5 linked regions of the Homo sapiens genome follow. The protein of the gene in region 1 interacts with the protein of each later gene in a pairwise test. Each region holds a gene or a part of one and is shown on either strand. Other genes may lie near its edges.

Region 1 (3,963 bases):
GCTACCATCTGGGTGCGAGGAATCATTAGCAGTGAGGCTAAGTTTGAGGAGCCGGAGAGGAGCTGTGCGCCAAGAGGAGGGTTTTTTCTTTTCTTTTCTTTTTTTTTTTTTTTTTTTGGAATCCAGAGGCTCTTATTGTCTGCTTCCTTTCTCAGCTGAACCTCTGCCCCCGGAGCCCCCAGCAGTGCCCTCTGAGGTGGAGCTGCAGCACCTGAGGAAGGAACTAGAGAGAGTGGCAGGAGAGCTCCAGGCCCAGGTGGAGTACAATCAGCGCATAAGTCTCCTGAATGAGGGGCAAAAGGAGAGGCTTCGGGAGCAGGAGGAGAGGCTTCAGGAGCAGCAGGAGAGGCTTCCAGAGCAGGAGGAGAGGCTTCAGCAGCTGGCCGAGCCACAGAACAGCTTCAAGGAGCTGGTGCGTTGCCCCAGCTGGGGAGCCTGCCCTCCTCCCTAGCCCTCCAGGCCTTTGTTTCCCCACCTATAAAATGGGGCAGTGTAGCCCTCAAGTGAAATGTTACTCCTAAAGGCACCTGTGAGCCAGAGCCCTGCTCTGGTGGCTGTGGGAGACAGGGGATGATTTTTCTAACCTGCCTCCACCCTTCCCGGTGCCATGGGAGGCAGTCACCAAGTTCTGGGGTCTCCAGCTGCAGTGGGTGGCTGCTGATTGCTTCTCTCTGTCCAGAACAATGAGAACAAGAGCGTACTACAGTTGGAGCAGCAAGTAAAGGAGCTGCAGGAGAAGCTAGGCAAGGTGAAGGAGACGGTAACCTCCACCCCATCCAAGAAGGTCTGGGAGGTGGGTGGGCACCAGCCTCTGGGGAGGGGAGGTGCCAGTCCAGCGGTAGCTCCAGCCCGGGGGCAGGTGACCCCAGCACCCTCCAGGGCAGTCCTGTGGCTGTTTCTTGCTTCCTGCCCTCTGATTTTAGAGGTGGGTAGCCCTGGGCTCCTCCCAGGTCTGGACATCATCATTCCAGCTAGAGACATGGAGCCCCCCCAATCACAGGGGAAGAGACAGAGTGGTATAACAGTCTTCTTATGCCAGATGCGGTGGCTTACGCCTATAGTGCCAACACTTTGGGAGGCTGAGGCAGGAGAATCACTTGAGGTTTGGAGTTTGAGATCAGCCTGGCCAACATGGTAAAACCTCATCTCTACTAAAATTACAAAAACAAAAAACAAAAAAAGAAAGAAAAATTAGTGGGGCATGGTGGTGGCGCATGCCTGTAATCCCACCTACTCAGGAGGCTGAGGCACGAGAATTGCTTGAGCCCAGGAGGTGGAGGTTGCAGTGAGCTGAGATTGCACCACTGCACTCCTGCCTGGGCCACAGAGTGACACTCTGTCTCAAAACAAAACAAAAAGACTCCTTAGATTAAAACTGGATTCCAGCCTCAGTTCCACTGGTCACCATTCAAGTACTTCGCATCTCTAAGTCTCTGTTTCTTTAACTTCAAAAGGAAGTTAGCATTTTCCTTACAGAGGTGCTGAGGATTAAATGAGATAATACATGGGAAGCATTAGGCCTGTAGCACATTTAGCAGATGGTGGTTGGCTCCCATACTTTTCTACCATTCTGTGGCCTACAGTTGAAATGGTGGGAAGAGGACATGAGATTTGAGGCTGGGGAAGGAGGCATGGGGTTCTAGGAAAGCAAGGCAGTCACTTAGGCCTGAAGTAAGGGGCCAGGGGCCTGGGCAGGCGACAGAGCCCCACAGTGCCCTCGCTACCCTATTAATGGGCCCAGAATCTGCAAACCAGCCACCACGTGCCCTCACACCCAGGGTCTTCCTGCAGGTGGAGCTGAAGAGCCAAGAGGCTCAGAGTCTGCAGCAGCAGCCAGACCATTACCTGGGTCACCTGCAGCAGTACGTGGCCACCTATCAGCAGCAGGTGGCCGCCTATCAGCAGCTGACCTGTGAGAAGGAGGCGCTGTACAGGCAGTGACTGCAGCAGACCCAGCTAATGAACCAGTTGCAGCAGCAGGAAGCTTGGGGCAAAGCGGTGGCCGAGATGGCCTGCCAAAAGTTGCAGGAGACCCAGGGGAGGGAGCTGCCGAGGATGGGGCTGTGAGGGGGACGACCTGGCAAACTCTGTGCCTTCTCACTCTTTCCTGGCCCCTTAGGAGCGTCTGGAAGCTGCGAGCCAGCAGAAACAGCAGCTAACGGCCCAGTTGAGCCTCATGGCTCTCCCTGGGGAAGGTACGGGAGACCGCTCAGAGGAAGAGGAGAGAGCCCCAGGAGGAAGGGGGGACTGCTAGCAGCATAGGATTGAGGAGTTGGAAGAGACCTTTAGAACAGCTGGTCATTATACTAACCGGGTGCCTGCACTAAGTTCAGCATCAATATGGTGACCTCCTGTGAGCGGGGGGCCACCAAGTTGCCTAAGGATGGCTGAACTGGCCGAGGTCAGAAAGGGAGCAGGTCAGAACTCCCGCACCGACCAGTAGTGGGAATGTGCCTGGGCAGTATAGCAAGATCTTGGTTCTTCAAAGTAAAAATAAATAACAGCAGCTCATTCCTCTCTGGGGAGGGCCTGGCTCAGGGTTACACAATGAGGGTGGAGGCAGAGGTGGGCCCACAATACTTCCCTTGTTGAGTTGTCTGAGGACCCCTCTGGCCACCACCCCCACCCCCAGGAGATGGAGGAGGACATCTGGACAGTGAGGGGGAGGAGGCACCTCGGCCCATTCCTAGCATCCCACAGGACCTGGAGAGCAGGGAGGCCATGGTGAGCCTGACTCCACCTGAACCCATTTTGCCTCCTTCCTCTGTGGTCCCTCCAAGACCCCTTTATGCTCTTCGTTTCCCTGCCTTCTGATTTCTCTGGACCCTCACCCCTTCTGGGAGCCAGTGGTCAGACACCATTTCACCTGTGACCAACATGTGCAGTCTCTGGGGCCCCAAGGGAAGGGGCTGCGCTCCACCTCTCTGCCCCATTTGTTCTGTGTATGCCCCTGCAAGAATGCTCACATCTTGCCCTCAGGTGGCATTTTTCAAGTCCGCTGGAGCTAGTGCCCAGGAGAAGCAGGCACAGTTACAAGAGCAGGTGAAAGAGCAGAGGGTGTGCTGCCAGCGCCTGGCTCACCCGGTGGCCTCGGCCCAGAAGGAGCCAGAGGCAGCCAGAGGCCCTGGAGCCCCAGGGCCTGGGGGCGAGTCTGTGAGTGGGGAGACCCACCGGGCCCTGCAGGAAGTCACGGAGAAGCTGGCCCATGCCGGAACTCACCTCCGCCTTCTCCATGACTTGAAAATGCCACCTGAGGGCAGGTCGCTGGCGAGATGTGACCCCATTATTTTGGCTCCAGAGCGGCTTTATGGACCACCTGGAGGAGAAGGCAGACCTGAGTGAGCTGGTGGAGAAAGAAGAACTTGGATTCTTCCAGTACTACAGAGAGAGATGCCATCAGTGAGTGGGAGGCCAGGGCATGGCAGGGGGAGCTGCAGGGCTGTTGGAGGGGCCCCAGCGTCTGAGCCCTGTCCTCCCGCAGGAAAGTTTATCACCCTATAACAAAGCCAGGGGGCAGTGCCAAAGATGCAGCACCGGGAGGAGGACACCATCAGGCTGGCCCTGGACAGGGAGGAGATGAAGGTAGAGTGTGCAACATCTCTGCGGGGGTGGGGGTGGCTGTGACGGTGAGCGCTGGCAGCAGCGTGACAGCTGAGCACCCCTCCCTCCAGGTGAAGCTGCTGGAGCTGCAGGAGATGGTGTTGCAGCTGGTGGCGACTACAAGGGACACAGCAAATTCTTGGTGACTGCCCAGAACCCTGCTCATGAGCCCAGTCCAGGAGCCCCAGCCCCCCAGGAGCTTGGGGCTGCCCACAAGCATGGTGGTGAGTAGAGCCCTCAGGCGGGGTGGGCAGGCAGGAGCAGGGGGGCTCTCACTGAGCTCAGATCCCCGCCTCCCTCTCTCCAAAGATCTTTGTGAGGTGAGCCTCACTGACAGCGTGGAGCCTGTGCAAGGAGAGGCCA
Region 2 (3,963 bases), on another chromosome or scaffold:
GGTCTTGAGCTCCTGGCCTCAAGTGATCTACCGGCCTTGGCCTCCCAAAGTGCTGGGATTATAAGTGTAAGCCACTGCACCCGGCCAGGCTTTCTTAGGTTTTATCTAATGTTTTTTTTCTGTGCCAGGATTCTATCTAGGAAATTACATTACATTTAATAGTCATATTTCCTAAGACTCCTCTTAGCTGTGATAGTTTTTCATACTTTGCTTATCGATGACCTTGTCAGCTTTGAGGAATACTCAGTTATTTTGTAGAATGTCTCAAATCTGATGCTTTTTCATGATTAGACTAGGGTACTGTGTTTTGGGGAGGAAGACTGCAGAGGTAAAGTTCCTTTTTCATCACATCAAATCAGGGGTGCACACTGTAAACATGATTTATTACTGTTGATGTTAATAGATGTTAACTTAATTAACTTTGAGGTAGTGTTTGTCAGGTTTCTCTATAATAAGGTTACTCTTTTTTCCCTCACTTTTCCATACTGTACTGTTTGTAAGGAAGTCACTATGCACAACCTACACTCCAGAAGTGGGAAATTATGTTCTACCTCCTTAAGGGCAAACATAAATCATTTGAAAGATCTTCTAAATGAGATATTTGCCTATTTTCCTCATTTATTTATTTAGTCTTAATTTAGTCACTTACTCAGTATTAATCCTCCTGGAAATTTCATAAATTATCTGATACCTTGCAATAAATGGTTGTGTCCTTAAAAAGAAAAAAGAATTACAAGCTCTTCAGATGCTATCCATTGGGATTTACTTCATTGGTTATAGCATTATCAGTTAAAAAAAATCACTACATATACATGCATACATATATGTAAAGTTATTCTATAGATATTGGTAAAATTCTGGTAGTATATATACTAGATTACTAACCATAAGTACCAGGATCAAAAGCAGTTTTTTCTGTGGGAACAGCCAAAGCTCCTCTGTCCTTAATAGTCAGCAAAATTATCCTAAATATTGGAAAGAATGTGAACACCTTTTGCTTGCATTGAGGAATACATCTCATTTTATAAGAATATGTGAAATGATGGTTCTTAGTTCTCAACTCACTAGAAGGTGAAAACTAGAATTCAGTAAAACTGTGAGTACACAGAGAAATGTAAACAATTTTGTAATTCTTTTATATGAAAAATATATTAAACATTTTCCTAAAGGTATGTATATCTTCTAAAGTCCCGTACATTGAATATCTGTTTAAAATGTGCTTTTAAACACTAATCTTCAGAACAAAGACATGATACAGAGATTACTGTTTAAAGCGAATTAAAATGTGCTCATAACCTTGTCTTTAGTTATATTTTTGATAACTTTGCAAATCAGGCACTAAGATTAAGAAGATATTCATTTTCAACGGAAGTAAATCTGAAGGTGAAAAATGCCCACAATAACTTTTAAAATTTCTTACAAGCTGCTGGTGATTATAACTGGTCATTAATTTTTCTCTAAGAATATTTAAAAGTTATAACTTCAATTTCATTTTGTTCTGCAACTGTGGGTTCTACCAACCGTGGGTGGAAAACACAGTATTCACTGATGCAGACCTAAGAAAATTGCATTCTTAAACATGTTTTTATTATTTAAGAAAAAAAAATCAGCTACATTAGTTCAATGCCTTTCTCCAGCCCCTGCCAATAAAACTTGGATCCCATGGAGTATCATTTGAAAAATATCAGTTTAGATATTCCTTTTATGCTTTTGAAGATTCAACACAGGTGTGTGTTCTCCCTTGAAGCCGTCTTCACTGCCTTGTAGTTATGCACCCATATTTCCCTATGTTCGGAATCGATTGGCCCCATTGTACCCAATGCAGTTAAACACTTCCATAAGTACTGTTTTGGCTTGGATCTTCCTATTTATGTTTTTTCTCTTCTATGAGTTATTTCTCACCTAAAGTAGAGACACTTTGGATCAACTCAGAGTTATCTTTGGACACGAGCATTGGTTGGTTAAGAATATATTTGTCACTTCAGGACTTAGTGACATTCAAGGATGTGGCAATAGATTTTTCCCAGGAAGAATGGCAATGGATGAACCCTGCTCAGAAGCGTTTATACAGGAGTATGATGTTGGAGAACTATCAGAGCCTGGTATCACTTGGTGAGGATCTTTTCCCTCCTGCATAATCTACCTTTAAGGAACTTTTTTGTCTATATATTATTAAATTTGCTTTTATTATATGTAGGTCAGAATGGAATTTGGGAATGGAATCTGAGAAACAGAGGATATTGAGGGACTGAAGAAAACTTGAGATTTAGAGTTAGTGAATTTGGAGAATATCAAATATTCCATGCATACACCCTTAAGGCAATTGGGAACACAAGACACAATGTGAATCTCACCAGTCTCCTCAGTTTCCTTGTTCTCTCTCTCCTACAGAATTACTATCACCACTAGACAACAACAAGGTTCACAAAGAATATATAGCTAGATTACTATAAATTCAGAATATCACTTTTAAAATCTGTATCTTTGTATTAAGTAACAAACTGAAGACACAAACTGAAAATGGCTTCAGATCACTTACTGTTAGGGAAATTCCTATGGACCTTTCTTCTAAGCACTGGGGCCACCCCATTGGCTAGATTAGCTTTCTGTTCTCCAGAAGCCCTTTTGATTATGCTTGTGGTTCATTGAGCTTCTTGAAACTAAATTTATATCTTAAACCAAATTTGGGAGATTTTTAGCCATTATTTCTTCAAATCTTTTTTTCTGTTCTTTTCTGTTTTGGACTTCAGTTACACCTATGTTAGATTGTTTGATATTGTGCCCTAGGTAACTAAGGATTGTTTCACTTTTAAAAATCTTTGTTCTGTTTTAATTTTAATTTTTCTCTCGCTCTCTTTTTTTTTTTTTTTTTGAGACAGTCTTGCTCTGTTGCCCAGGCTGGAGGGCAGTGGCGCAATCTTGGCCCACCACCTCCCAGGTTCAAGCAATTCTCCTGCCTTAGCCTCCCAAGTAGCTGGATTACAGGCACCCACCACCACACCCAGCTAATTTTTTTTTTTTTTTTTTTTTTGAAACGGAGTCTCGCTCTGTCGCCCAGGCTGGAGTGCAGTGGCACCATCTCGGCTCACTGCAAGCTCCGCCTCCTGGGTTCACGCCATTCTCCTGCCTCAGCCTCCTGAGTAGCTGGGACTACAGGTGCCTGCCACCACACCTGGCTAATTTTTTTGTATTTTTTTAGTAGAGATGGGGTTTCACCATGTTAGCCAGGATGGTCTTGATCTCCTGACCTCGTGATCTGCCCGCCTCAGCCTCCCAAAGTGCTGGGATTACAGGTGTGAGCTACTGTGCCTGACCTAATTTTTGTATTTTTAATAGAGACAGGGTTTCACTATGTTGCTCAGGTTGGTCTTGAACTCCTGACCTCAGGTGATCTGCCTACCTCAGCATCCCAAAGTGCTGGGATTACAGGCGTAAGCCACTGTGCCCAGCTCAGATTGGATAATTTCTGTTGATTCATAGTCAAATTCCCTGACTCTATCCTTACCCTCAATGTTTGGTTAGGTGCATCTAGTGAATTTTTAAGTTTCAGATGTTATATTTGTTAAATTATATAATATTTATTTGGTTCTTCTTGTAGTTTCGTTTCTGAGATATCCTGTGTGTACATTTATTTCAAGCATATTTGCCTTTATATTCTTAAGTATTGATATAATAATAGCTGTTTTTAAATCATGTGCTATTTCTTCTTCGTTATTGCAGTGTGAGCGTCTATTGCTTGCTTTTTCTAATGGGCATGATTCACTTTTTCCTTTTCTTATGTCAAGTAATTTTGAATTTTATCATGTATACTTAAATAAAACATTGTAGAGCCTCTGGATTCTGTCATATTCCCCTAAAGAGTATTGATTTTTTTCTAAAGCAGGCAATTATCTCAAAACTTCAAACTGTTTCTAGGGACCTTTTAAAATACCTCATTTACTACTGTGTGATAATATTCAGAAA
Region 3 (3,963 bases), on another chromosome or scaffold:
GAATTGTGCTGAACCTTACCAGATTTGTATTCCTTTATTTCATAAGGCCCTGGTATTTGACAGATTTCTAGTCTGTGTTCCCTGCTAACAGATACATTGTGTACCACTCCTTAAATAGTCCATACTTTGCTAGTTGGGGTAGTAGGTTTCGGGAAATGAGAATTCTCATTTGACTTTTTGATTCTTAATAATTTCTATTCCTGCCCTGAAGTTTGACTGGCCTTCCCTTGCTTTCATTTCAACTCGTTGGAGTGTCGCAAGGTCCCTCAGGAACTTACTATGTTTTAAATTTTAATAGCAGCAGCTCGCTACTGCATATGATGATGATACCACTTCACTATTACGAGACTGTTATTTGTTGGAAGAAAAGGAACGTCTCAAAGAAGAATGGTCCCTTTTTAAAGAGCAGAAAAAGAATTTTGAGAGGGAGAGACGAAGCTTTACAGAAGCCGCTATTCGCCTGGGATTGGAGGTATTTTAAACAATTGTAGTGCTTTTGAAAATACTGGGGGTGGGTGGGCCTCAGTAGAATGCTTCTAAGGTCTCCTTTTTTTCTTGCTATTTACTTATTTTCTAAAATATTTACTGGTGATCTCACAAATAATTTGAAATGAGAGGGAGGCTGAGCATATAGAATGGGATCATTTCCCCTTACCAGATTTGAGAATTGAACTTAAGAAAAAAAAACGCTATAAGCATTTATTACTGCTTTCAGATTGGCTTTCTCCTGCTAAGTGTTTTACACAAGAAATCTCTTTTGGGTATCCATCATTCATCCACGGTCAGTAGGTGTGGTGTCAGAAGACAGTGCAACCAAGACTATATTTGCTGTTTAAAAAGGAAGTATAATAAAAAATTAAGTTCTCTTCTCCCCAGTCCATCATTGTTATATATACGCTCTACAGCTTGCTTTTTTTACTTAGCAATGTGTCATCTACATATTCCCCCTTCAAAAATTGTAGCAGTAATGTCTGAATAAGGTTAAAAAAAAAAAATCAACAAAACTCATTAAAAAAAGCTACAAAGTAAGAAAGTATCCTCCTTTCTCATCCTCAGTTTCATTCCTTAGAGGTAACTGCTGTTAAAAAGTATCTGTTGGAAATTCTTCTAGGAAGTACTATTTTAACTTTTAATGTATTTCAAGTTTTCTTGTTTATCAGTTCATTGATTCCCTGCTATGAAAGATAAGGAATTCTGTGTCCTTATTGTACCTCCTACCTACACCCTTCCTCATTCACATCTCATGTCTTCATAATATTGTTCCTCTTGTTCGTCTGCTTGCCTTTTTTTTGCTTTAAGGAAATAATAAAAAGCTTCCATTTCATGTTTGTTCAACTTCAGTCAGTATCAGTTCATCCCTGCAGTGAAAGCTGAGGACTTTCTTGTTGTTACTCTTGTTCTACCTCTCTTGCTGTACTACTTTGCAATTTTTGTGATATTATTTTTCATTGTTATCACATTCATAGTTTGTCCTCTAATACAATCCAGGTATAAGTACTTTGTCTAAACTTGAGACTTAAAAGTTGGAAAACCAGGAAAGAAAATTGATAATACTACAATTATGTAAATGTTATTCTATAACCAAATATGTTTGGACACAGAAAATATTCTGTATTATTAAGACTTTGCCACCCAGAGAGATATATCACTATCTAGTGAATTCTTTTTCTCTGTAGCTTCCTTTGTGATTTCCTGAATCAGATTTCAGCTGCCATGTTGCTCATATCTCATGTTACTGTCTTTCTTGGGTTTCTGTTCAATTCGCTATATTAGTAATTGAGTAATTACTAATTCTTGAGTAATTTTTTTTTTATAAATAGTGCATGAGCTGTAAACATTCTGAATTCTGGAATAGTCAAAAATATATTCATACTTGATTGGTTTGGCTGTGTATAGAATTTAGATTCCAGTTTTTTTTCCTTCAAAACTTTGAATTATTCCATTTCTCCTAGTGTTTAGTTTTACTGATGAGAAGCCTGATTGTAATATACCTGTGTTACTTTGTAGATAACTGTGTTTTGTTTTCTATCTCCCTCTGTGGAAGCTTTGGTATTTTCTTAAAGTTTGGAAATTTTACCAGGATACTTCTAGAGAGTTCCTTTCATCCTAAAGATTCTGTATTTCTTTAATTTAGGGAAATTTTCTTCTTTATTTTTTCCTTCTTTGACTTCTCTGTGTTCTGGAACTTTTGTTAGACACACATTTGGCCTTCTGAATATATATCTACAGGTTGACTTTTGTTCTCAATTCTGGGATATTCTCTTACCTTTATCTTAGAGATCACGAAACTGGCCTTTCAGGGTCAGTTTTATTATTTGCTTTAGCCACTGAGTCTTTGCTTCAGAATTTATCTTTAAATTTTTCTAATGTCCTTAATTTTTGCTTTTCTTTATATAGCATGATGGTATTTTACAGATGTTTATTAATCTGATAATATTTGTTACATTTTTAAAAAAGATTTCTTTCATCTGTTGAATTATCTCTTATCCATGGTCAGTTTTCTATTTATCTTGACCTTTTTTCTATATTAGTTTTCTCAATGTTTGGTGATGCGTGATTCTGTATCAATATTTATGAATGAAAGACTGTGTGTTGCTTGTTTTCAGTAGCTGACGTGGATTTCCTCAGTTCACAGTGTGAACGTCTGTTTCATCAGTAGCTATCTTCAGGGAACAACACTTGACCAGCATTGTCTCCTACCTGTTTCCAAGCCCTTATTCCCCACATTACTCCAAGAGAGTAATTACTCTTGCTACTTTGCATATTGCTCCCAGTTGCCAGGTGCCTTTCCCTGCAAGAGAATTTTTCTCCGTCTGGTCACTGGGACAGTGGGCATAGTGAGGGATGGGAGGGAGGCATGCAAGACCTGAGGGCTGATGGAGAATTTAGTTTAGGATTCATCAGCTATTCAGAAGGGGGAGGTTTGACATAATTTGCCTATGCCCTCTTGTGGTTTAGTGGTGGTGGCTACCAGTACTGGTAGATGGCTAGAGGATGAGAGAAATGCTTGATGAAGTCATAGGTCCTGTTTTTCAAGTGACTAATTTACAATATAGATTATTTTTCTTTTGTTTGTAACTTTATAATGTTTTGTATGTTCAAAAGTTATGCTAATATTCTGTTCCATTTTTTGCATTGTTTATTTGAACTTAAAATTGATATGAAGACAGTGATGGTTGGTTTATTAGGTGAAACAGATGAATTTCTATTTTTTAAACATAATTTTTTCGTAAGTGAAATTTTTCTTAGTTTTTTTGTTTTTGTTTTTTTTTGAGATGGAGTCTCACTCTGTTGCCCAGGCTAGAGTGCAGTGGCGTGATCTTGGCTCACTGCAGGCTCTGCCTCCTGGGTTCATGCCATTCTCCTGCCTCAGCCTCCTGAGTAGCTGGGACTACAGGCACCCGCCACCACACCCGGCTAATTTTTTTTGTTTTGTATTTTTAGTAGAGACGGGGTTTCACCATGTTAGCCAGGATGGTCTCGATCTCCTGACCTCGTGATCCACCCGCCTTGGCCTCCCGAAGTGCTGGGATTACAGGCGTGAGCCACCGTGCCCGGCCGTGTTTTGCTTTTTGAGATGGAGCCTTGCTTTGTTGCCCAGGCAGGAGTGCAGGGGTGCGATCTCAGCTCACTGCAACCCCTGCCTCCTGGGTTCATGTGATTCTCCTGCCTCAGCCTCCTGAGTAGCTGGGACTACAGGCGCACGCCACCATGCCCGGCTAAATTTTGTATTTTTAGTAGAGATGGGGTTTCACCATGTTGGCCAGACTGGTCTCAAACTCCTGACCTTGTGATCCGCCCACCTTGTCCTCCCAAAGTGCTGGGATTACAGGCATGAGCCACTGCGCCCGGCTTTTTTTTTTTTTTTTTTTTTTTTTTTGGAGATACGGTCTTGCCGTGTCACCTAGGCTAGAGTGCAGTGGTGCTATCTCGGCTCACTTCAGCGTCAACTTCCCAGCCTCT
Region 4 (3,963 bases), on another chromosome or scaffold:
TAACTTACTGAATTATGTATGCATTTCTTCAGATATGCTACTTTAGAAAATTAATACTTCCTTTTAAGGTTTCTATAAATTCTTCAGTATGTGTTTTCTTAAGCTTAATTACCTGCTAACATGACACTGTCAGAATTTATACATTAGTCACAATAACCTTTGAAGCTTAAACATGGTTGAATTTTCAGCACTGCTTTATATTCTTTGGGGAGTGGGCAGTGTTGTTTTCACAAGAATTTTATTTGCATCAAAGGTTACATCTTTTCAGGTGAACTGATTTTTCAGGGTCAGAGGCTTCTTTGAATTTTATAGCTGTTTGTGCTCGGTTGCATTTGCTGTCTTTCAAAACCATCTTTAGTTTTAGTAAGGAAAGTCACTATAAAGGAAAAATTTTTTATTGTTACCATTCCTGGTAGATTTTCTGAAATATTAGATATTTCTTTGCTTTCATCAAGTAAAATAGGCCTATTTGATACCCATTTCAAGATCTTCCTTCTGCTGCCTGTCTTGTGGTCATTTAACTTCTCATTAAGCCCTCCACTGGAGACTGTGCCAGAAGGGAGAGAAGATGAAAAGCAAATGAATCATTTTCTAATTGTTAGTAGCTCTGGAAAATGATTCAGTAGAAGAGATTGAAACTATTCTGGAAATTCTTTGGGATTGTATTTCATTCATCTGCATCGTTTCAGAGATGTTCCTAATGGTCGTCAATTCAGAATTCAGAAGCCGATCATTATCCAGCTATTGGATAACAGGGAATTTTTCATGCTTTTTTTTTGTTTGTTTGTTTCTTGCTGTATTTAAGCATCTCCACAGAAGATATTTAGAAGCAGGTAGAGATAAAATTTAAACTAATCAATACTGTTTTTTCCCTTTGAACTCTTTAATGCACAATTTGATTTCTTTAGACAGTTTACTCATTGTTATTGGAAGTGACTAATAGTAACTTTGCTTCAATTTATTTTGATGTATCTTATACACAAGTATAGGAAGGCTTTTGGGTGGTTTTTAAGAAACATGGGCTGTAGATTCCCATAATTGCTTTCCTGAATTATTAAGCGTGAGCTTTCATTACATCTTTGTACCGGAACTTTTGCTTTTGCTGTGGAACAGATTCAGGGACATCGTCTAATTTTTTTTTTTTTTTTTTTAGATAACTGCTCAAGAAGTTACCTTGTTTTGATTTAGCAGTAAAAAAGAAAAAAAGGGTTAATAGTGGACAGACTTTTCGTTAACGGCTGCAACATTGATGTCTGCTTTTTTCCTTGTCTTTGATCTTCTGTTTCTCATTTAATCATTTGGATATTCACGGATTGGAGTTCTTTATGTCACTACAGACAGGACAGCAACCGTTATTCACACTAGTTGAATGGGTTCCTGCCTTTTTTTGGTGGGGGGGCCTCAGGAGAATTTTTACAAACCCATTATGACTGTTTAGTTAGGCTGAGTTACTGTAAAATTTGTAAATAAAACCCTACTGGATGGATAGGGTTAATAGATGGCTATAGAGAGTTTAAAGTTAAGCTTTTTCAATTTCTTGTCTCTTGGATTCTGTTCTTTCAATTTCTACCCTAGGAGGGGATTTATGGAAAAATCTAGACTAAGAGTCAGAACATGCAAGTTCTTATCTAGTTACTTCCCAGCTGTGGCGCCCTCAGCTAGTCACTTAATCTGCCTTGTTTCTCTGTTTTGCATCTTTAAGATGAGGATAGTAATCCCTGCTCGGCCTACTGGTATCAGGAATGTTGTAGGGGGAAAAAAAGTCTTTCATGCCCCTGTCTATTAAATTGTTTCTTCCTTCTAGAATCCCTTCTCAGGTTGTCCGAATTTTCTTTCAAGGATTCAACTGAATGGGCTCTTCCCAGAAGTCCTCTATTTCCCATTTGAAATCTTGCTTTTCCCCTCTCACGGGCCTCTGCTGGTCCATCTGTTATACAGCACTTTGAATTCTGTTCTGTACTTCAGTCATTGCATGTTGCCTTCCATTATAGATGGAAAGCTCCATGAGGGCAAAGATTGTCTTTTTCCTCTTTCTGTGTGTCCGCATTGCACATAGGCACCCCCTCCACTCCATAGGTGACCCACAATAATTGTTGGCTGAATGAATGATTATTGAGGCTGTCAGAATGAATACTTTGGGTGATGGGAAAATGCCAAAGATGAGCATCTTACCAGAACTTTTGGATGAGTGGCCTTTTAAATTGCTCAGTTACTAATCTGTTGTTATCAGTAACTGAATCAGATCCTGGCAAGACAAATTGGCAAAGCCCATTTCTTGGTCCTGTTTACTTCGGATACTATTTGTGAAGCAAGTCAGAGGAATGAAAGACTGTCATAACAGTCTTGAATTTGACATTTGTTCCATTTCTCACCCCATAGCATGTGGAGGCCTGTCTATATCCAACTGCTGAGTGTAAAGAATAAAAACTGACTGCCCCATAGTCTGGTCCACATTTTAGTTGTGTGCTTTGAAGGATTTGCAAGGTAGAGAAATAGATGCTTCAGGCTCTGATTTCAGCCCATGCTGTGCTATGCAAATGTTCTCTACATGCCTGAGTGACCTTTTGAGAAAGAGCCTTTGTGATCTTCTGTAGCTAGGGCTTGTTCTGGGAATTCTGTGCCAGATTCCTCTAAAAGTGGGAAAAGTGAATCTGTTAAAGGACCACGTAAAAAAGCCAGTGCTTTTCCTGGATGAATACCAATAAGTCCATGTTTCTTACCATGTCTTGCCAGAGCTTTAGAAATTTGCTCTGCAGTTTGCTTTACAGGTTGATTTGGGATTGAAGTGTGTGAGAGGGAACTGACTAAGGCAGTTCAGTAGCTGGGAAACTGTTTGTTTAAATGCTTTTGAATTGTAGATAAAAATAAATTCACATTGGCATCATTAGTATCTGAGCATTTCTCAGTGTCTTAAGGCTGGCTCTCCATGAGTGCTGGCTGATTGACTCTCATCTATATCGGTAAGGTTCTTTTTGCCCCAAATTGTGCTCTTTAACACTTCGGCATTTAAATCACTTTCTATTTGTTTTAATTGTACAAAGAGAAATACATCATTATTTAAAAGCATCATCTTTTTTTTTTATATTGTAAGATAAATACCATTCTGATGTATTTCTCTTGGAAAGGGATGCTGGTATCCTGGGAGGTTTATGATTTTTGATGTTTTTACTCAGGTGATTGGCTTGTATAGCTGAAATGCTGATGAAAAGGAGTTTTCCCTTCTCCCTTTTTCTTTTCTTTTCTTTTTTTTTTTTTTTTTGAGATGGAGTCTCGCACTGTTGCAGGGGCTGGTGTGCAGTGGCACAGTCTCGGCTCACTGCAACCTCCGCCTCTCGGGTTCAAGTGATGCTCCTGCCTCAGCCTCCTGAATAGCTAGGATTACAGGTGCCCACCACCACGCCCAGCTAATTTTTTGTATTTTTAGTAGAGATGGGGTTTCACTATGTTGGGCAGTCTGGTCTTGAACTCCTGACCTGGTGATCCTCCTGCCTCAGCCTCCCAAAGTGCTGGGATTATAGGCATGAGCCACTGCGCCCAGCCTGTCCCTTTTTCTTAAATGACCTTTTTGGTGAGGACCATTATAGGTTTGTACCAGGATAAGGTTGTAGAGTTAATCATAATATTCTCTTATATAAATTCTAAAAATTGATGTTCTAAGAAGAGAGGTAGAATTTGAATGACTGGGTTACTTCCTAGACTCTTCCTCCTTCTCTTAAGTACAGTATAGTTCTTTCTCTGAAAATCTTCAGTCTCTTAGTTCCAGATGGGTTCTCTATGGTAAGAATACAGGACATGTAGAAGGCCCTAGGGGAATGCTTTCTTCCCCAGATCTTTGCCCTGTAGTAGGTTTCAGCTGAGCAAGGACGAGTAGTTTTTCTGGTGTTTGGCCTCCTCTGTTGGGTGGAAAAAGACTTTCTTCTCTATTTTCCTAGTTATATATGCTATCATATGTCTGTTTTTCTC
Region 5 (3,963 bases), on another chromosome or scaffold:
GAACAAGCTAGTTTACCACCTCTCTTTAAGTTTTGGTTTCCCAGTCAGTAAAATAGAAAGTGATGAAACCTAACTTGTAGGTATAAGGAAGATAAGAAATATTGTATTTGAATGCCTAGTACAGTGTCAGGGTTGAATAAAGTACTACTTCAACTTTTTCCCTAGTAATTATTGTCCTCATGACCAAACCTGCCTCCTCTCAAAGGCAGTGGCCACAACAGCACATCCAACTTTTATTTAGGAAGACATCTTTGTCTTTTTTCAGAGTGTGAGGAGCACAACAGCCTCAAGGAAATGGTCCTGATGGAGGGGCTGTGCTCTGAGCAGGGACGCCGGGGCTCAACACTGGCTAGTTCCTCTGAGAGGAAGCCCTTGGAGAACCAGCTAGGGAAGCAGGAAGAGTTCCGGGTATATGGAAAGTCAGAAAACATCTTGGTCCTACGAAAGGACATCAAAGATCTGAAGGCCCAGCTGCAGAATGCCAACAAGGTCATTCAAAACCTCAAGAGCCGGGTCCGGTCCCTCTCAGTTACAAGTGATTATTCGTCTAGTCTGGAAAGACCCCGGAAGCTGAGAGCTGTTGGCACCTTGGAGGGGTCTTCACCTCATAGTGTCCCTGATGAGGATGAGGGGTGGCTGTCTGATGGCACTGGGGCTTTCTACTCTCCAGGGCTTCAGGCCAAAAAGGACCTGGAGAGTCTCATCCAGAGAGTATCCCAGCTGGAGGCCCAGCTCCCAAAAAATGGACTAGAAGAGAAGCTGGCTGAGGAGCTGAGATCAGCCTCGTGGCCTGGGTAAGGATGGCACTGTTTGGGTACTTTCTTGATTGAAAATGTGTAAGTTCATGCTTGGCGTAGGGTAGCTCAGGCAGTTGGAAGAAAGAACATGTCTGGGTATTCACAGGGACACTGATTTAAATGGTAGATACAGGTCTGCAGAAAAGACAGGTAGGCAACCAGGAGGGCATAGGATGATGTTCCAGTATCTGGGAGATACCGGGTCTCAGGGATTTCCTCTTAGGGATATATTAGTAAAGATGGTATAGTATAGTAGTAATACTGGAATCAGACTACCTACCTCTGGTGCTTACTACCCATGCAACCTTCTTAACCTTTCTGAGCCTTTGTCCTTACCTATTAAATGAGGATGATAAGAGAACCCATCTCAAAGGGTGGATATTAGGTTTAAATGAATTAATACAACTGCTGACCAGGCGTGGTGGCTCATGCCTGTAATCCCAGCACTTTGGGAGGCCAAGGCAGGTAGAACACCTGAGGTCAGGTGTTCGAGACCAGCCTACCCAACACGGTGAAACCCCATCTCTACTAAAAATACAAAGATTAGCTGGGCATGGTGGTGCACACCTGTAATCCCAGCTATTCGGGAGGCTGAGGCAGGAGAATCGCTTGAACCTGGCAGGTGGAGGTTGCAGTGAGCCGAGATGGCACCACTGCACTCCAGCCTGGGTGACAGAGCAAGAGTCTGTCTCGGAAAAAAAAAAAAAAGAATTAATACAAGTGCTTAGAATAGTGCCTAGCATATGTTAAGCTCTCAATGCTATTTGCCATAGTTATAAGTGTTATTGATACTTAGTGTTGAAAACACAGACATTCATCTTGGTGTGTCCTGGTTATCTATTGCTAAGTAATAACCACTCTAAAACTTAGTGACTTCAAACAACACTTTATTATGCTTCATGGTTCTATGGTTTGACTGGGCTCAGCTGGGTGGTTCTCACTTAGGGTCTCTTGTTTTGGGTCCCATCAGTTGATGGTATGAGCGTTTAAATGATGGCCATCATTGCAAAATGTAGTCAGCCACAGTATCGTAACATAGAAGAAATTCAGGCATCAGGTGGTGGTTAAAACAGAAGGCATGAAAGGTTCTATCTAGACTTAGGATGAAATGATGCTAATTATTCATTGAGTAACTGCTGTGAATCTATGTGATACTGGTGCTGTAAGGGATGTAAAATGCAGAACTATGTTTATTCTCACAGACCTTATGATTTATCTAGGGACATATAATTAACACATGTATAACAGTTGAAGAACAGTGACATACTAAATTTTTTTTTGATACGGAGTCACTCTGTCATCCAGGCTGGAGTGCAGTGGTGCCGTCTTGGCTAACTACAACCTCCACCTCCTAGGTTCAAGCAATTCTCCTGCCTCAGCCTCCCGAGTAGCTGGGATTACAGGCATGTGCCACTATGCTCAGCTCATTTTTTTTGTATTTTTAGTAGAGGCAGGGTTTCACCATATTGGCGAGGCTGGTCTCAAACTCCTGACCTTGTGATCTGCCTGCCTTGGCCTCCCAAAGTGCTGGGATTACAGGCGTGAGCTACCACGCCCGGCCCGTACTAAGTTTTTTAATGCAATACTTTATCAGGGTAGAATTTACTCTTAAATACCTCCTATGGCTTATGTGCCAGAATTCAGCTTGGGGGAGTTCCTTAGAGATGTTCTCATAGAAATCTCTACAGAAGCCCCCATAACTCCATAAGTTAGCTTCCACTCTTTCCATACTTACACTTTCCTCTTCTGTCCTGCATTAGGAAATATGATTCCCTGATTCAGGATCAGGCCCGGGAACTGTCTTACCTACGGCAAAAAATACGAGAAGGGAGAGGTATTTGTTATCTTATCACCCGGCATGCAAAAGATACAGTAAAATCTTTTGAGGATCTCCTAAGGAGCAATGACATTGACTACTACCTGGGACAGAGCTTCCGGGAGCAACTCGCCCAGGGAAGCCAGCTGACAGAGAGGCTCACCAGCAAACTCAGCACCAGTAAGTTGGCCACAGGGCTTTGGAATACTCTCAGTCACCCCCACAGTTCCAGCCCCTGGTGGCCACCACATCTCCACTGCAACTTTTTATCCTAAGGTCCTGTTTCTATTTCATTTCCTGGGGCTAATACAGGATCAAGACTGCTCAGTGGGGAGCATGGAGAGGAAAACACAGGGCTGGAGATGCCATGGTTACAACTATAGAAACTTCACCACTAATGGAATGTGACCTGTGGGGCAGGGGCAGCATCTCTCTGATGCTAAGAGGGAGTAGGGGACATGAGATGGAAGGGCTTTGTTATAGGAGGAAGAGCCCTGAACCAAGAACTACAAGACTCAAGCTCTGGCCTGGATGCTGCCACCAACTCGCTAAATGCCTTATCCTTGTGGTGTCTCCATTTATGGCATGGTAATGTGCATGCAGGTACTCCACATATGGATAAAGCGCCATGCTCTTTTATACATGGTTTAGGCACTGGCTGCAGTAGTTCAAGGGCTACATTGGTTATTATTGGGGTCTTCTACTCAGAATTTCCAGCGACTATCCAAGGGAGTAAAGTAGGATCAGACTTGGGAGCCACCCAGCCCACCACCTGGTGGCAGATGCAGAGGTGGGGCAGGGCTTCTTGTCATCTCCTCAGAGACCAGTGCAGGTTCTGCATGAAAGCTGTGGTGGGGCATATGCATTGGGGAGCTAGTCTGCAGCAGGACATGGAGGCTGGAGTGTCCCGCAGGGCAGCTGGGCAAGGGCCTCATGATTAATGGAACAAAAGACATTATAAATGTTTTACCCTGATTTAGGGCAGAGGAAGTCATCATGGTGACCGGCAGGTCAGGGACAGTGGGGTCACTTCTCTAGAGACACAAGCTGAGGTATCCCAGAATAACTGTTCTGGATGCACACATGAAATGCTCACTACTCTGTCTCCAGATAGGCTCCTGCATTTGTAATGCGGGAAGTGGGACCAGCCTAATTTCTTATCGTCTCTTTCTAAATTTGGTTTACAGAGGATCATAAAAGTGAGAAAGATCAAGCTGGACTTGAGCCACTGGCCCTCAGGTAATTCAGAGGAGAATCTGGGAAAGAGATTGGGACCGAGGCCCAAAGGGTCAAGGGTGGCGGCAACTCCACAAATCAAGGGGAATAAAGCAAAGTGCTGAATGTATTGAA

What was found.
Region 2: the proteins of GOLGA8F (region 1) and ZNF471 interact in a two-hybrid assay, tested with the Homo sapiens proteins (one large-scale study listed by BioGRID).
Region 3: the proteins of GOLGA8F (region 1) and SSX2IP interact in binary tests that used the Homo sapiens proteins (3 or more experiments, as listed by UniProt).
Region 4: the proteins of GOLGA8F (region 1) and KCTD6 interact in binary tests that used the Homo sapiens proteins (3 or more experiments, as listed by UniProt).
Region 5: the proteins of GOLGA8F (region 1) and PDE4DIP interact in binary tests that used the Homo sapiens proteins (3 or more experiments, as listed by UniProt).

Annotation. Positions count from the first base shown.
Region 1 is NC_000015.10:28,384,970-28,388,932, forward strand, and holds part of GOLGA8F (golgin subfamily A member 8F), read left to right. Parts: intron 1-155; coding exon 156-412; intron 413-679; coding exon 680-748; intron 749-2,119; coding exon 2,120-2,195; intron 2,196-2,632; coding exon 2,633-2,724; intron 2,725-3,298; coding exon 3,299-3,399; intron 3,400-3,481; coding exon 3,482-3,582; intron 3,583-3,671; coding exon 3,672-3,824; intron 3,825-3,909; coding exon 3,910-3,963.
Region 2 is NC_000019.10:56,514,290-56,518,252, forward strand, and holds part of ZNF471 (zinc finger protein 471), read left to right. Parts: intron 1-1,985; coding exon 1,986-2,112; intron 2,113-3,963. UniProt on the Homo sapiens protein: May be involved in transcriptional regulation.
Region 3 is NC_000001.11:84,652,341-84,656,303, reverse strand, and holds part of SSX2IP (afadin- and alpha-actinin-binding protein), read left to right. Parts: intron 1-298; coding exon 299-472; intron 473-715; coding exon of another isoform or gene 716-839; intron 840-3,963. UniProt on the Homo sapiens protein: Belongs to an adhesion system, which plays a role in the organization of homotypic, interneuronal and heterotypic cell-cell adherens junctions (AJs).
Region 4 is NC_000003.12:58,494,741-58,498,703, forward strand, and holds part of KCTD6 (BTB/POZ domain-containing protein KCTD6), read left to right. Parts: intron 1-3,624; exon of another isoform or gene 3,625-3,963. UniProt on the Homo sapiens protein: Probable substrate-specific adapter of a BCR (BTB-CUL3-RBX1) E3 ubiquitin-protein ligase complex mediating the ubiquitination and subsequent proteasomal degradation of target proteins.
Region 5 is NC_000001.11:149,004,644-149,008,606, forward strand, and holds part of PDE4DIP (myomegalin), read left to right. Parts: intron 1-265; coding exon 266-794; intron 795-2,557; coding exon 2,558-2,793; intron 2,794-3,800; coding exon 3,801-3,852; intron 3,853-3,963. UniProt on the Homo sapiens protein: Functions as an anchor sequestering components of the cAMP-dependent pathway to Golgi and/or centrosomes.